2 separate regions of the Homo sapiens genome follow, and region 1 is linked to region 2. The links come from fine-mapping of genetic effects on gene expression. A gene starts in region 2. The other region holds a variant in brackets. All regions are shown on one strand. Distances are between the middles of the regions.

Evidence for each region. PIP is the estimated chance that this variant, and not a neighbour inherited with it, causes the effect.
Region 1: its variant is fine-mapped to the expression of PCDHA3 in monocytes (Fairfax 2014, PIP 0.95).

The regions. Positions count from the first base shown.
Region 1 is chr5:141,170,395-141,178,736 of GRCh38, reverse strand. PCDHB7 (protocadherin beta 7) reads right to left here and starts at 6,093. Exons shown (of 1, transcript NM_018940.4): 1 at 2,354-6,093. The coding sequence starts at 5,901. The coding sequence ends at 3,520. PCDHB8 (protocadherin beta 8) reads right to left here and starts at 947. Exons shown (of 1, transcript NM_019120.5): 1 at 1-947. The coding sequence starts at 702. It also overlaps PCDHB@. RefSeq lists an enhancer at 3,493-4,123. The variant T/C (reference allele first, on the strand shown) is at 4,200.
Region 2 is chr5:140,796,133-140,804,474 of GRCh38, reverse strand. PCDHA3 (protocadherin alpha 3) reads right to left here and starts at 3,418. Exons shown (of 4, transcript NM_018906.3): 1 at 884-3,418. The coding sequence starts at 3,277. The region is part of intron 1 of PCDHA1 (protocadherin alpha 1); the gene reads right to left. It overlaps PCDHA2 (protocadherin alpha 2), which reads right to left. Exons shown (of 4, transcript NM_018905.3): 1 at 7,123-8,342. It also overlaps PCDHA@.

The DNA.
Region 1 (8,342 bases), 370 kb before region 2:
GACAACTTCAATGTAGACCTGAGCAGTGCCAGATCTGGGCGGAGAGCCACCATCCAGTGCTGTGAGTGTTAACCTGAGCTCAGCTTCTTCCTCTCGGTCCAGCGCTTTGTCCAGCACCAGCTCTGGGTATTTCCTGCCATCACTGCGTTTGCGGGTGAGGACCCGAAAATAGGAGTTGGGGCTGATTATATAGTTCTCAATATTGTTTTGGCCTATATCTAAGTCTTCAGCATTCTTCAGAGGAAACGCAGTCCCAGGAGGACTGCTCTCTGATACTTTCACCAACATTTGTTTGTCCAGAAATACTGGAGAGTGGTCGTTTATGTCTATTACTTGCAGCTCAGCTTGAAAAAACTCGAAGGGACTCTCTAGCAACACTTGGAAACGTAGCACACAGGGCTCTGTGTGACCGCACAGATCCTCACGGTCCAATTTCTCATTTAGCAACAAATCCGCGGTCTCCTGATTGAGCTGCAAATGTAGTTTGTTCCCTCTGGAAACAACCCTAACCCCCCGCCTGGAGAATTCCCTCTGCTCCAGACCCAGGTCCTTTGCTAAATTGGTGACAAAGGAGCTGCCCTCAGTTTCCTCCACCACAGAATAGCTTCTAGGTTCCGCCGCGCCCGCCAGAGATAAGCCCAAAAGGAGAAAGGAAAAAAGGACTTGCCTTTGTCTGCAAATGAGCTTCCCGCTGGCCTCCATTGTTCTTGCTGAATTCAGCTTCCTGGGAGGACGGTTCTGTGGGACTGTAAAGTCCCCAGTATCTGAGGCTGTGGTTTTCTACAGATACCTCAGAAATATGCCAGTGAGTAGTCCTCTCCAGAGGACCCAGCCGTCCTCCCTTTGGCATCCAAGCTCCCCGTGGACTTCCAGGTTCTGCTGCTTTTTGCCGGTTAATGGAGCTGCAGCTGCGGTTCTGGTTTGTGCCTTCTTATCCTGCAGCGCCACCACGGGTCCTCACAGGATCTTACATTTTGTGGGATGATAATAGATGTAATATTCCCAACTCTGCCTGTATGTACCCTGGGACTATGTAAAGTTACAACACCACGGTTAATATCGCCGGACGTTACTGAGCAGACAACTGCCCGAAGGAGAAATTGCGTTAGTCTTTCAACAATGCTAACTGAGTTTTGGGCAAAAAGGAAATATTTAGGTAACAGTCTAGCTTGGCAAAAAGAATTTCAAATATAATAGTAGTTAACATGGGCAACATTTAGATCTTTATAGTTTTATTTCCATGAACCATAGGAATAATTAGTAGCTGTGAACCTCGAACAAATTATTTAATCTCTCTGCTTTAATTTCCTCATCTGTAAAATGAGGATAATAATAGCACCTACCACATAGGGCTGTTGTGATTTCCCCACCTTACACATGAGGAAACTGATTCAAAGAGAGATTAAGCTTAAAAATAAACTATGTACCCGGTATATGGCAATTTGATACCACCAGGTAGGTGACTCTGCATAAATCCATTGCTATAACTAGAAAAACACCTCAAAATTACATGGTAGAATAGTACAGGAACATGACTATCTCAGGTAGAGAAGTTATGTCAAACAGTGAAGGTAAACAGGGAAAGGCTGGAGAGCTTGTCTAAATAGAGACAAAATGTGTAACAGCAGTGGTGATTTTATTTCTGGGGAAGCGTGTCCTTTTTTGTTACCTCTATTTCTCTTCTAATAGCATCAATTTTAAAAAGCTTTTATTTTGATATTTTTCATATCTCATAAAAGGAGAGGAGTAAAATTAACCTGCAATTACTCAGTACTAGCATCAACTATTATCAATGTCTTGCCATAATTCTTGACGCTATCCCTCCAACATCTTTACGTTCCAGACAAACTGAATTTTCACCCACAAATACTTCATTGTACATTTCTTTAAATGCATAATAACTTTAAGTGACTCTAAAAATACCCTTAAGTACAATGCCATTATTATACCTAAAAAATTCAGTTAATATTACTTAATACCCATCTATATTCAAACTCTTCCAAGTGTTTCAAAGTCATTGCTGATGTTTGAATGAAGATCCAGACAAGATCCACACATTACGTTTGATTGGTAGATCTCGTAAGATCTTTCCTACTGTAGACTTCTCTCCTCCTGTTTTTCATGCTATTTATTTGTTGGAGAAATTAGATAATTTTACCCTAAGACCATGAAAGCATTTTAAGATTTTACTGCTGTGAGGTTTTTTTGCCTCTAGATTCTATCCCACCAGTGATATATAGTAATACTACCTTTATTAGAGTTACCAGCACTAGTTTATAATATTTTCAGAATGCAACCATGCAAAAATTATCTAGATATTTTAAAAATAAAAATCAGTTGTAAATTTTTATAAAAAACAGTGCTTCTCCTTAACTTCCGAGAATTTCTAAAAATTTAATGATCATCTATGATTCTCTTTGATATTATGCATTTAAAACTAACTATTCTTTTTCTTAAATTTTCCTGATTCAATAGTGCACTATAATTAATAGAAAACTTTTAAAAACAAACTTTCAAATCAGGAAAATGTATTACAAATGTTAAGTATGGGTGACTGCAGAAAATCTACAATATGAAGAAAATAATTAACTAATGATGCAATCAAAATTATGTAATATTCCTACTCAGGACCATTAATCTTTTTTCTGGGAAATGAAAGTCATATGTTCTGAAGAAAGGAGAAGGCACAGGTTGCCCTTTCAATTTTGTTTTCCGCTTGAGTTTGGACAGATCAGAGCATTAGTAATAATAGTTGAAAATTGACCCAGAAAAGCAGGACTTTTGGTGTATAAGAAAATAAAACCATAGATAAATATGTACATTATTATTTCTAAATATAGAAAAGATTGGACAGCAGTATAAATATGATAAAAGACTTCTCCTTAATTAGGCAGAAACTTGCCAGGTGATATCTAATGACAGAAAACAGTATGGAATCGGAGCAGGGTCACTGACCCAGAGTCAGACAGATCTGGGATGGATGCTCAGTTTTGTCACTTATTAGTTAGTGGAACTTAGTGAACTTACTGAATCTCTAAGACCATCTATTTGTTCATTCCTAAAATACCATGCCTCATATGCTTCTTCTCAGATTAAAAGTGTTAAAATAGTGTATGATGCATTAAAAGCATTTTTTAAAAATGCTTAAAAAGATACTCTACAGTCTATGCTTCTGAGACTAGGGTAGGTACACTCATACAGCTTTCTAATCAACTCAGGAAGTCTCAGTAGAGATTGAAAACAATGGAAAGCAATTTAAAATATCTCAAACAAGACTTACATTTAATAGACTGTATATTAAGCATAATTGTTTGACATAAAACATTACACATATACATTTCATGCTTTGTGAAGGGTTCTTGATACTAAATCAGGATCCTATTTTATGTATAGAAATTTATTGCTTGACTTCAAGAGTACATATTTGAAATGATGTAAAGACACTCCCTTAAGGGAACCTCGCAATAAGTTCCTAATCAGAAACGTATTCACAGACGCGGATTTAGTTTACATTCTTTATCAGAAACCCAAATTATTCTGAAATGGGCGATTTTCTTCCACTTCCCTGCCTGTGCTCTGGGGTAGCAGGTTGGGGATAATTGGTTTCAGAAACTTGAACTCATTTGTCCCGGAGCCTCCAGTCAGGCACACCTCATACTGGTAGCTCTGGGATAGGGTCCCGGTGCCGCTCAAGTCCACCAGATGTCGTGGAAAGGGGCCCTCAGGCACCGAGCAGCGACCCACCGGGGCCGCCCTGCTCCTCCTGCACAGCCGCACCGCCACGAACAGGAGCACCGAGAGGAGGAAGAGCGAAGACACCGAGGCCAACGCCACCACCAGGTAGACGGTGAGCGAGTTGGCCTGGTCCGGGGCCGCCTCCGGGAGCCGCAGGTAGGGCTGGGAGAAGCCGTCCACCAGGAGCACGTGCAGCGTGGCGGTGGCCGAGCGCGGAGGCTCGCCATTGTCCTTGACCAGCACCACCAGCCTCTGCTTGGCTGCGTCGCGCTCGCTCAGCAGCCTGGCGGTACGCACCTCGCCATTGTGCGCCCACACGCCGAATAGCCCGGGCTCCGTGGCCTTGAGCAGCTGGTACGACAGCCAGGCGTTCTGGCCCGAGTCGCCGTCCACCGCCACCACCTTGGTCACCAGGTAGCCCGGCTCGGCCGCCCGGGGCAACGGCTCGGTGCAGGGCGCGGAGC[T/C]GTTCTGCAGCGGGTACAGCACGAAGGGCGAGTTGTCGTTGGCGTCCAGCACCAGCACGCGCACCAGCGCCTCGCTGCTCAGCGCGGGGGAGCCGCGGTCTGTGGCGCCCACGCGGAACTCGAACGCCTGCAGGGCCTCGTAGTCCAGGGACCTGAGGGCAAACAGGTGGCCGTTGTCCGCGTTGATGGAGACCAGGGAGGCGAGGGGCAGGTGCGGGTCCTGGGACGGCAGCAGGGAGTAGATGACCTGGGCGTTGGTGCCCGAGTCTCTGTCTGTGGCGCTGACACTGCCGATGGGCAGGGCGGGGCTGTTGTTCTCACGGACAAACAGGGTGTAGGAGGTTTGGGTGAAGGCGGGAGCGTTGTCATTGACGTCGGAGACCAGCACGGTTATGTTGTGCTCGGTTTTCAGCCTGGGTGTCCCCAAGTCGGTGACGGTGATGGTGATGTTGTACTCAGTGTTCCTCTCTCGATCCAAAGGTTTCTCTGTTACCAGAGTATAGAAGTTTTCGACAGATGGCTTCAGGATGAAGGGGACATCGTCCTGGATGGAGCACACTGTCTTTCCATTGTTCCCGGAATCTCTGTCTCTAATCCTAAAAACAGCCACGACTGTCTCGGGTGAGTTTTCTGCAATTGGGCTAGTAAGTGAAGACAGGAGCAGCTCGGGTCGATTATCGTTTATATCTGTTACATCAACCACTACAGTGCATTTTCCAGAAAGCCCGCCGCCGTCTTTGGCCTGAATAGTTAATGTGTAAGTTTGAATTGCCTCATAGTCCAATTGCGCTTTAAGATGAAGACTGCCAGATGTTGGATTGATTTGAAACGTTTTGAGAATTCTTTCAGTGGCGTAAGAAAATGCATAGGCTATTTCCCCATTACTTCCGGTATCTAAATCTCTGGCTGACACGGAGACAACCATGGAACCAACGGGGCTATTTTCGGGCACCTGCACCTTGTAGAGCGACCGCACAAAATCAGGGGCGTTGTCATTTACGTCTAGAACCAGAATGCGCACGAGGGCGGTCCCTGATCTTGGAGGAGAGCCGCCGTCTAAAGCGGTGAGGGTTAAACTGAACTCTGGTATCTCTTCCCGATCCAGCACTTGATTCAGCACCAATTCGGGATAGATATTCCCCTCCCCGCTATCATGGACATTAATATGGAAATAGGCATTGGGGCTGATGGTGTAGTTACTCAGGCTGTTGGTTCCAACATCTGAATCCTGTGCACTCTCTAGGAGAAATGCCGCCCCTGGAGTGGTACTTTCTAATATTTTCAAGGAAATCTCTCTGTCTAGAAATACTGGAGCGTGATCATTGATGTCTCTGACCCATAGTTCAGCACGGAAAATCTGAAAAGGTTTTTCCAATAACAACTGGAAAGGCAGCACACAGGGCTCTCTGGGGCCACACAGTTCCTCTCGGTCCAATTTCTCATTTAGAAGTAGATCACCAGTAAGCGAACTGAGCAGTAAAATTTGCATGTTCTGGTCTGAAACAATTCTAGTTCCCCGGGCTCTCAGTTCCCCTACCCCTAACCCTAGGTCTTTTGCCAAGTTGGTAAGAAAGGTGCCTCTCTCGGTTTCCTCCGCCACAAAATACCGAAGCGGTTCGGCGCCAGCCCAAGACATTCCCAGAAATACACAAAGAAATAAGACTTGCCTTTTCTGCACAGCACGCTCCACTCTGGCCTCCATTCTTCTTTGGATCAGTCTTTCAAAATGACTTTCACTCAGCCTCCAGCGGCTCTCACAAATGGCAGCAGCGGAATCCTTTGAAATGAGCTGAATAATAGCAATGTTTGTGGGGAAGGATCCTCATTTTACCCCAATTCCTATTACCACTGTTTCCTTTCCTATGCTTTTCTCTTCAGATTGCCTCTTTGCTCTGGAATCTGTAACATCCTTTCTTTGTGAAATTATTTTTCTCTCTCTCTTTTTAGCCAGCAGCGCCACCTTGCGTTTTGTGGATGTTATTCCCGTTATCAAGACTAGAACAAAAAGATGGCGGATTGAAGGAATTCTGCAACAAGAATGATTTGTCCCCGGTATCTTTGCTGTTTCATTCCATCTTTATCCTCAAATGGTCACAGTAATGCTAGTAAGTAATAGCTGATGTCGTTTTCCCCTGTGATAATCTGGATTCGTAGAAGAATTAATTTATAGTCTTCTTAAATCTAGGAGCATGAAACTAAACTCTGACTCCCCACCGAAATCCTAAGAAAATCTCCTATTTTAAAAATGGATAGTAAAAATATATATGAGAAAATGAAACCTCCTCCTTGAAGTCAACAAATATTGGTTGGGGACATTTTATTTATTTGTAAAGTATTTAACAATAATAATGTGAATATGGCAGAATAATTGACCCTTTTCCCAATTTCTTGTGAATTAAACAATTATTCCACTTTCCAGGTCTTAACTCTTTACCTGTGATATTTCTTGGAACACTTTATGCCTCCCCCAAACCCAACCTTCATCCTTCACCTGATTTAAGTATTACATAAGAAATTATTGTTCCTCTATAATTTCAGTGACTAGAATCTCCAATGTCCAATGAATACTCTTAAAATTAGTAGTAGCAAGTTGGTCAATCTTGCATTTGTGGAAGTGCTTCTAGCATTTCATCTTCAACTATGATGGTTGATCTCAATTTGGGGTAAATATTCCTTTTTTGAATCAATAAAGTTTTCTTTTTATTCTTTCATATTTTGAAGTGATTTTTGATAGCTGTTGAAATAATACATTTATTCTTTAGTTTCTAAATTACTGAGTTATTGATATAAATGACATTTAACCATAATGTATTATTGTTTTAGTGCACAGATAGATATGATGTGTCAACATGGTTTTAGGATTTTTCTAGTTAATGTTGTTTACCTAGTGCGTGTTTGCCTTTTATGGCCTTGGTATTAAACTATTATACTGGCATCATAGAATGTGTTAGGGAGCTTTTTATCTATTTTATACAATAGTTTTAATAATTATATTATTATATGTTTCTACATGCTTAATTCCAGCTTGTCTTTTAAACTGGTTGGGTTTGGTGACTTCACTTGCAGTAGATCAGTGACTACCATTTACATTTTACCTTTGGTTATTAATCTGTTCAGGTTTTGTATTTTTAAGTAACTTGCATTTTATTTTGAAAATCATTTTATCTAGTTTGCAAATTTCTTGGAATTGTTTTCATTGCGTTATTTACCTTTAATTGTATCCCTATTTTTATTAGTGATGTTTAGCATTTTAACTCCTTTTTATTCTTGGTGAGACTTGCAAGAGCTCTACTTTACTGATATTTTGAAATGCATTTTTTTCAAAATAATATATGACCTTGGTCCAAAATTAAATAGCACTAAGAGGCTTGTTCTGCCCTTTTCCTCCTCACTTTTCTTAGTTCCCCTTCTAAGAGGTAGCCATTTTAAAACTCTTTTAGTTATCTCTTCAGTCACTAATCTGTTTTCTGATATATTTTGATTAATTAATTTTAGAAATTATCAATTGACTGTTTATTATGTTAGATTACATTTTAGGTATTTTAGATTTTCTTTTACTTACCATATATTGGGAACATTATTGTGTATTAATTATGTTTTCTTTTTCAATTTTTTTGTGATTTTAATAATTATCTTGCCTTTTCATTTACTTGATTTTTTTTATCCCTATCACTTATTCATCCCACAGATACAATTGCCTGTCAGTGCAATTTTCCCCATAGTCATTTCCATTCCTCCTGAGACTTCAATTTTTCTTTAAATTGGGTGGTTGCTTTCTGTGCCTACTGCACAGCTATCATTCTGGATTTTTTTCTTTGCTGTCATTCTTGGAATTCTTTGCCTTTTATTCTGGATGTGTTTGCTATTTCTGGGATTTTATAACTTGCCCTTTTTCAGTTTACTCTATGGCATTACTAGAACACATCCTCCAATAGGTTCATATGATTGAAAAGATGATACAATGTTAAGAGGATTGCTAATGATATCCTTCAAAATCTCTGTCTCTTGAGTCAAACAGCTCCTTACTGGACTAGTTGTTCATTATGCTCAGTTGTCATCCTTGGATCATCCTTCAGCATCACCTGGAGATTCATTTCACTTCTGTCCTGTTTTGGATCTTCTAGTTTCTGTTTCTTCTGTCTT
Region 2 (8,342 bases):
ATTGTTCAGATTGAAAATTATTTTTAACAAGATTTAAAACATTCTTTTAAAATGAATATATAAATATACTATACAACTATTAAATTTTCACTTCATATTGATATTTTAGTTATTAGTAATAAATTTTAACATATAATACAGTAGTATTATTAAAGTAGTATTAAATAAAGTAGTGATAAACTAAAGATGAACAAAGATGCAATTCTAAATGCAATTGTTATTCTCGATTTTTTTCCCAACTGGGAAATCAAGAAACAATAAACGGTATTGCCAAATTAGAGCACAAGGCCTAAAATGAATCATATTCAAGTAAAAAATAAGGATTGAGACTCCAAACAAGTGAATAAGAGAATAAAAGAGGTTCCATAAAAGACAACAGGTGTAATGATCTAATTTTTGAAACTGAAGGTGGAAAAGCATAATCAATAGGGAGTTATAAGCATTAGGTGAACTCATAAAATGAGCAAGTAACATTTGTACTAACAGGTAGTAGGAAGTCCAAATGAAAAGTGGCAAAAGATATTGAAGAAGCATTGTATAGGGATAAGTATAAAACAAGTCGAAGTCAGATTCTCTAAATAATGCAATTCATCTAAGAAAAAATATTTGTCTTATACCCAGGCATTTAGCAATAAAATAATTCTACTACTGCACCTAATAACAAAACAAAATTACAAGTGTGGATATCATAACTTACTGCTGATTTGGTTCAAAAATTAGCAACAAAAATCTTACCGTTTTAACCACAAAACCACAAAACTGGAAAAGTCTAATTATGAATCACATAATTCATACTTAACTATTAATGTATTTCCAGAGGAGTGGAAACATTGAGGAATGAAAAACAAAGACATTTTGGAAAGAATAAATAAAAATTACTCACTTTGGCTGAGAGATCAACGTCCACATCCTGTTTCTCCTCTCTATCCCGGCTAATTGGACAAGGAGGAAGGCTAGGGCTAAAAGCCATGAGGTCGGTCTTGGGCAACCCCTCTCCAGAGCACACCCTCTGCTGCCTCTGCTGCGAGTATGACCAGCTCCCCACCGCGCTGGAGCACACCAGCGTGGGCTTGCCCGGCCCACAGTCGCCTTCGGTTGGCGGCGCGGAGCACCGCAGAGCAGTATATAGCAGCAGTGTGAGCACCAACAGACTGGACACCGCGCAGATGGCGACGATCAAGTACACGTTGACATCCACCAGTGCAGCTTCCGGGCCCGTGGCGCCAGCGGACGCCTGGGACGAGGCCTTGGGTGCCTGGCCACTCTCCACCAGCGACACCAGCACAGTGGCCGTGGCGGTCAATGAGGGTTCACCGTGGTCCTTCACCAGCACCAGTAGGCGATGGCGCGGGGCGTCCACCTCGTCCAGGGCACGGGTCGTGCTGATCTCTCCCGTGTACAGCCCCACGCGAAACGGGATGCGCGCACCGCCGGTCCCAGGCTGCAGCTCATACGAAAGCCACGCGTTGTAGCCTGAGTCTGCATCCACTGCGCGCACCTTCGCTACCACGTGGCCCGCACCCACTGACCGCGGCACCAGCTCGCTCACTGCGCCACCGATGCCACCCACCCGAGGCATCAGCAGTGCCGGCGCGTTGTCGTTCTCGTCCAGCACGAACACCTGCAGCGTCACGTTGCTGCCCAGAGGCGGCACGCCCGCATCGCGCGCACTCACCTGGAACTGCAGCAGCTCTAGCTCCTCGTGGTCCAGCGGCTGCAGCGCGTACACCTTGCCGCTCTCCGCGTGTACCGACACGTAGCTCGACAGCGCGCGCTCCCCCACCCGCCGTTCCACCAGCGAGTAGGACACCAGGGCGTTCTCCTGCGCGTCCGCGTCCCGCGCAGACACCGTGAAGATGTGGCAGCCCGGCGGGTTGTTCTCCTTCACGAACACCGTGTACTCGGACTGCGAGAATGCCGGCGCATTGTCGTTCACGTCGGCCACCTCCACGGACACGCTGGCCGTGGCCCACAGTGAAGGCGAGCCCCCGTCCCGAGCAGTCACCACCAGCTCATAGGCCGACACGCTCTCGCGGTCCAGAGGGCTGTCCAGCACCAATGAGTAGTAATTCTTGAAGGTGGACACCAGCTTGAAGGGGACGTGGGGCGTCAGCGAGCAGGTGACCTGTCCATTGACTCCTGAGTCGCGGTCGGACACGCTGATCAGAGCGATGACTGTGCTAAGTGGAGAGTCTTCTAATACAGGTAAAGATAGTGATTGAATAACTAACTCAGGTACATTATCATTGATGTCCACAATTTCGAGTAGAACTGTGCAGTGATCTGACATTGGGGGATTTCCTTTATCCGTGGCTTCTACCTGGATTTCATATGACTTACTTTCCTCGAAATCTATGTTACCCTTTACACTGATTTGTCCATTGACTGGATCTAAATGGAATTTTGACAGAATATCTGCTGACATGTCCGTATTGAAAGAATACGCGATATCCTTATTTACTCCTTCATCCAAATCGGTGGCGTTAACGGTCACCACTAGGGTACCATTTGGTGCATTTTCGAGTAATCTGACTTTATAGATCGTCCTCTCAAACGCTGGGGCGTTGTCGTTTACATCTAAAACAGTGATCTTTAGTTGAGTCGTGCCAGTGAGCTCTGGTTTCCCACCATCAATTGCTGTTATTAGTAAATAATGCTTAGGAGTGTCCTCTCGATTTAAATTTTTTTTCAACACGAGTCCAAGGGATTTAATTTCCTCATCATTTCTTTTAACGTCCAAGGTAAAATATTCAGTGGAATCAAGACTGTAAGTCAACAACGAATTTGTTCCGATATCTGCATCTGATGCGCCCTCTAGCGAAAACCGAGAGCCAGGCTGTCGGGATTCGGAAATAAACAGATTCTTTACAGCCATTGGAAAAACTGGCGCGTTGTCATTAATGTCCTTCACTTCCACCTCCACATGGAAAACCTGCAGCGGCCTGTCCACGATCACCTCCAGGTGGATGCTGCACTCCGCGCTCCGCCCGCACAGTTCCTCGCGGTCTATCCGAGAATTCACAAACAAAATGCCATTCTGCAGATTTACCTCCAGAAGGTCCCCGTGTCTTTTGGACGCCACCCGGAACAGGCGCGGCACCAGCTCCGCCAGCTCCAGCCCCAGGTCCTGCGCGATGCGGCCCACGAAGGTGCCATGCTTGGCCTCCTCAGAGACGGAGTAGTGGAGCTGGCCGCTCCCCACCTCCGAGGCTGCGAGGAGCAGAAGAGAAAGCAGCAGGCACTGGGCTCCAGGATCTTCTCGCCAGGAGAACAACATTGCAAGTATTTTCCAAATATTAGATTGCCTTTACATTGATCCAAAGTTTAAAAATAATTCGAGTTCCTTATCTTCATTTCTTAAACTCCTCGGTGTTAAATTTTAGAGAGGATGAAGCAAAGCAGTATCTGAATACGTAATGCACGCTGTTATTTCTTTTGTGGAGAAAGACCTTGTGGTGGACAGCGACATCATGTGGCTAAACGTGTAAGTATTAAATATGTAAACGTATCTTCTTTTCCTTGTATGTCGTTTGAACTTTCCCAAAATTTCTAGTTTCAATTGTAATATCCTTCGGTCACTCCTCAAAGTCCTTATATTTTATCTAAATATTTCCTTAGAACTTTTATACTAATTCACTATCAATTGTGCTAATTCATGACATACACTAAAATATTGTGATTCCTGTTTTAACAGTGGACATCTATTGGAAATATTTCCCATGTGACAGCCACTTTTCTATTTGTCTTAATGGAATTATCCCGTTAAATTATCACAATCCTCTGAAATAAGTTTTAATATTATTCGCTTTTTATAAACACATAGAGGTTAAGTAAAACGATATTATCTCTTGGTACGATGGGATTTCAATCTGATTCAAGACAACTTACCATTAACCTCTTTACCACCCAAGTTACATTTTATAGAAAAATCAGATCCTTTCAGATTTATGATCATCAAAACATTGAGATGTTGAAGTATTTAAAAGTGTGTGTGTGCTGTATATATTAAAACATACATATATCTACTTTTATGTTATTACAGCAACTGTTAATTTCTTAAAATATGTACATTTATGGTTTTTTAAATTTGTAGAATGTCTGTAATTCCCTCCCATGCCCCTTTTTCAAGAACTATAGCCTCATCAACTGTCTTGACTGTAACTTACATAAAGATTTCAGAAGTCGGTCCTTTACAGAGAAATTCAAACAGGAAATTTGTTTCCTATTGTGGGAATGTGATTTGTATATTTGTTACACTCACATCACATCAATTAAGAATATATTAGGTTTAATTTTTCCACACTCTTTATGTATTTGAATTTACCTGTATATACTAAAATGTTAACAATATAAAGTAATTACGTTTTTGATGATCTCCACTCCTGATGAATTTCTAGATTCCAGTTTTTTTAAAAGTTGTTACTTGAAAGAATTGATTATTTAACTAAACAGTGAAGGGAGAAAAGTAACCTAGGAACATAAGCCAGTATTTACTCAACATATTTAACACTAAGCAATAAAACATTCTAAAGATATCTGTGAATTCAATGAGAAGCATGAATTCTCGCCGCATTTGGAAGTGGGGCAAAGAAAATTTATGGAAAGAGGTCAAATTTAGAGAAATAAAATAATGTACAAATTTTTGCTTATACCCAGACCATTTAAAAATGAAATCAAACATGTGATTTAAATATTTAGGGGAAAAGTTTTCATTTCAGCTTTTGTTTCCTGTGTATTCATGAAATGGAAGCCAGGACTGCAACTTACTCAGATTTTATCATTCATATTTAGAATAGGATAAATTATCAATTGTTGTTTTCATGAATAAATAAATTAATATTTTGAATTAACTTTTTCAAGCAAGATAAATAAAAATGTAAGTTAATGATATTTGTTAATATCAAACTTACATAATTTCTAAATGATTATATTGTGCTATATTATGAAGAAGTAAGTAAACATTTAAGCATTATTTCTGAAAAGCATGGACCTAAGAAATAATTATAGCTATTAATATTCCAGTTACCACTTTGCTGAATTTTTAAAGATGGTAGCTAGTTTGAAAATAAGAGATAAATTTAAAATTTTTAAACTTCATGGACTTCATAGTAATGAGATGCCTTTGACAACTTATTGTAATACTGCACTTTTCAGTACCTTTAAGAGTTATACTAATTGCAAAATGGAATGTCACATGAGAATTTATAGCAGAGTAGACTCCATACTGATTATTAAGAGATAAAGGTAATATTAAAGGAACTATGAGTTTAGAAGATTGAGCCATTTTGTAGATAAAGTATCAGTGAATAATTTCTACTACCACCTAGATGTCACTTAGACAACCAAGAAAAAATGTAAATAAGAATGTTTTGAAAAAACTTATAGAGCAACAGATTGTGACTCCTGGAGATTTGGATATATGTGAATATAATTTTAGAAGCTTATCATTTACCTATGGTAGAAACATAGTGGTCAAGTATTACTTGGAAATGGATATTCTGACCTAACTATGAAATGGCTAAAGGTAAGATCACTAGTGGAAGTTATTTCTATGATTTATCAATATGCACATATATTTAGAATAAACAGCAAATAACTAAGAACTAAATAGTAGAGGACCGTTTAAGACAGTTATTTTATTGCAATACATCTGCCTTTGGTTGGAAAAGCTAAAAAAGTTCTTTCCAAGTGTAACATTTACTTGTCGAGTTCAGTGTTATAATTACCCAAAATAAATGTTTCAAGTGAAAATGTAGTCATCCAAGACCAGGCCTCATCTTTTGGAAAAATTCCAATTTCATTAGGAATATGGATGCTTCCAGGTAAAATTGAGTGAGCTCACATTAATGGAAAATGTATTCCCACGCATAGAATTAGATGCCAGAAAAAAGTAGTCAATCTCTGCAGTGGGAGGCCTGCACACATTGGCCTAATGATAATGATACTGAAAGGATGATTTATCAACCATTAACATAAAGACTGGGTAGTCTCCACTTAAATGAAGAAAAAGTCCCACCACCTGAAAAACCCCAGTGTGATTTTTAAATGTTAATATTTTCAAATTAAACAAAATTGAGAGGGTCTCTTTTCTCAATACTCTCTATTTTTGCCTGATAACTCAAAAATGTTATCAGTGTGAAATCTTTATACCAAATAATGGGTTATTTTACTTATAAAAAACATACTTAAGATTAGCAGTTATTCCTAAGTGCTGTCATTTTGTTGTAACAACCTGTGCTACATACTTTTGGAAATTCTGGTGTTAAAATATCCACTCAGGCTGCTTTCAAATACAAATAAAAAGACCAGGTGCAGTGGCTCACTCCTGTAATCCCAGCACTTTGGGAGGCCTAGGAGGGTGGATCACTTGAGGCCAGGAGTTTGAGACCAGCCTGGCCAACATTTAGTTGAGACCAACCCCGTCTCTACTAAAAATAAAAAATTTAAAAAAGAAAATAGCCGGGCGTGGTGGTGGGCGCCTGTAATCCCAGTTACTAAGGAGGCTGAGGCAAGACAATCACTTGAACCCGGGTGGCAGAGGTTATAGTGAGCTGAGATCACACCACTGCACTCCAGCCTAGGTGACAGAGCAAGACTGTCTCAACAAAAACAAACAAACAAAAAAAAAATGTAGCTTATTAACTATTGCATAGACAAGGGCATTGTTGATCCAAAGAACAATCTAAGAAATGTCCAGGATATAGGTTATTCCAAACACTATCCGACAGATTGGATAGACAGTGTCAGTTGAAAATACGTATTATATAATCAAATTCTTTAATTTCTTCCGATTGTGATTTTCAATTTTTAAGAGAGAAAATATTTATGGGAAATGTTTAATTTACAAATTTTGCTGAGGTGTTTTTCAGTGTTTCATGGTCTATTACTTATGACTTAATGATGGAAGTGCCAAAATGTAAAAATAAGAAAACAGTTATGTAGATTGTTTAAATAAATTGTTCAGTAAATGCAATAAATTGATCTCTAATTCATATTCAAAATCGCACGGTAGGATGATATAAAATAAATGAAGAACTATGAATCTAAATAACTAGTAGAAATCATATAGAATTTTTTAAAAAGAACAATTTTAGAATTGGCAAGAAAAAGTAAAAGACTCACCTTTCCTACGTATTCTGATTCTGAGAGCTGTTTCTCTTCTGCGGAGTCTGGACCTTGAGATAAGCTAGGGCTGAAGGCCATGAGGTCCGTCTTGGGGGGGTCCTCCCCAGAGCACACCCTCTGCCGCCTCTGCTGCGAGTAAGACCAGCTCCCCACGGCGCTGGAGCACACCAGCGTGGGCTTTCCTGGCGCGCGCGCACCCTCGGTGGGTGGCACCGAGCACCGCAGCGCAGTGTACAGCAGCACCGTGAGCACCAACAGGCTGGATACCGCGCAGATGGCGATGATCAGGTACACGTTGACATCCACCAGCGTAGCCTCTGAGCCCGCGGCGCCCACCCACGCCCGCGACGAGGCCTTGGGTGCCTGGCCACTTTCCACCAACGACACTAACACGGTGGCCGTGGCTGTCAACGCTGGTTCGCCGTGGTCCTTCACCAGCACGAGTAGGCGGTGTCGAGGGGAGTCAGCCTCGTCTAGGGCACGTGTCGTGCTGATCTCACCCGTGTATAGCCCCACGCGGAACGGGATGCGAGCGCTGCCAGTACCCAGCTGAAGCTCGTACGAAAGCCACGCGTTGTAGCCTGAGTCAGCGTCCACTGCGCGCACCTTCGCCACCACGTGCCCTGCACCCACCGACCACGGCACCAGCTCACTCACTGCGCCAGCAGCGGTGCCAGCCCTAGGCGCCAACAGTGCCGGCGCGTTGTCGTTCTCGTCCAGCACGAACACCTGCAGCGTCACGTTGCTGCCCAGAGGCGGCACGCCCGCATCCCGCGCGCTCACCTGGAACTGCAGCAGCTCCACTTCCTCGTGGTCCAGCGGCTGCAGCGCGTACACCTTGCCGCTCTCCGCGTGCACCGAAACGTAGCTCGACAACGCGCGCTCGCCCACCCGCCGCTCCACCAGCGAGTAGGACACCAGCGCGTTCTCCTGCGCGTCCGCATCCCACGCTGACACCGTGAAGATGTGGCAGCCCGGCGGGTTGTTCTCCTTCACGAATACTGTGTACTCAGGCTGTGCGAACGCCGGCGCGTTGTCGTTCACGTCGGCCACCTCGATGGACACGCTGGTGGTGGCCCACAGTGAAGGCGAGCCCCCGTCCCGTGCGGTCACCACCAGCTCATAGGCTGACACGCTCTCGCGGTCCAGGGCGCTGTCCAGCACCAACGAGTAGTAATTCTTGAAGGTGGACACCAGCTTGAAAGGGACGTGGGGCG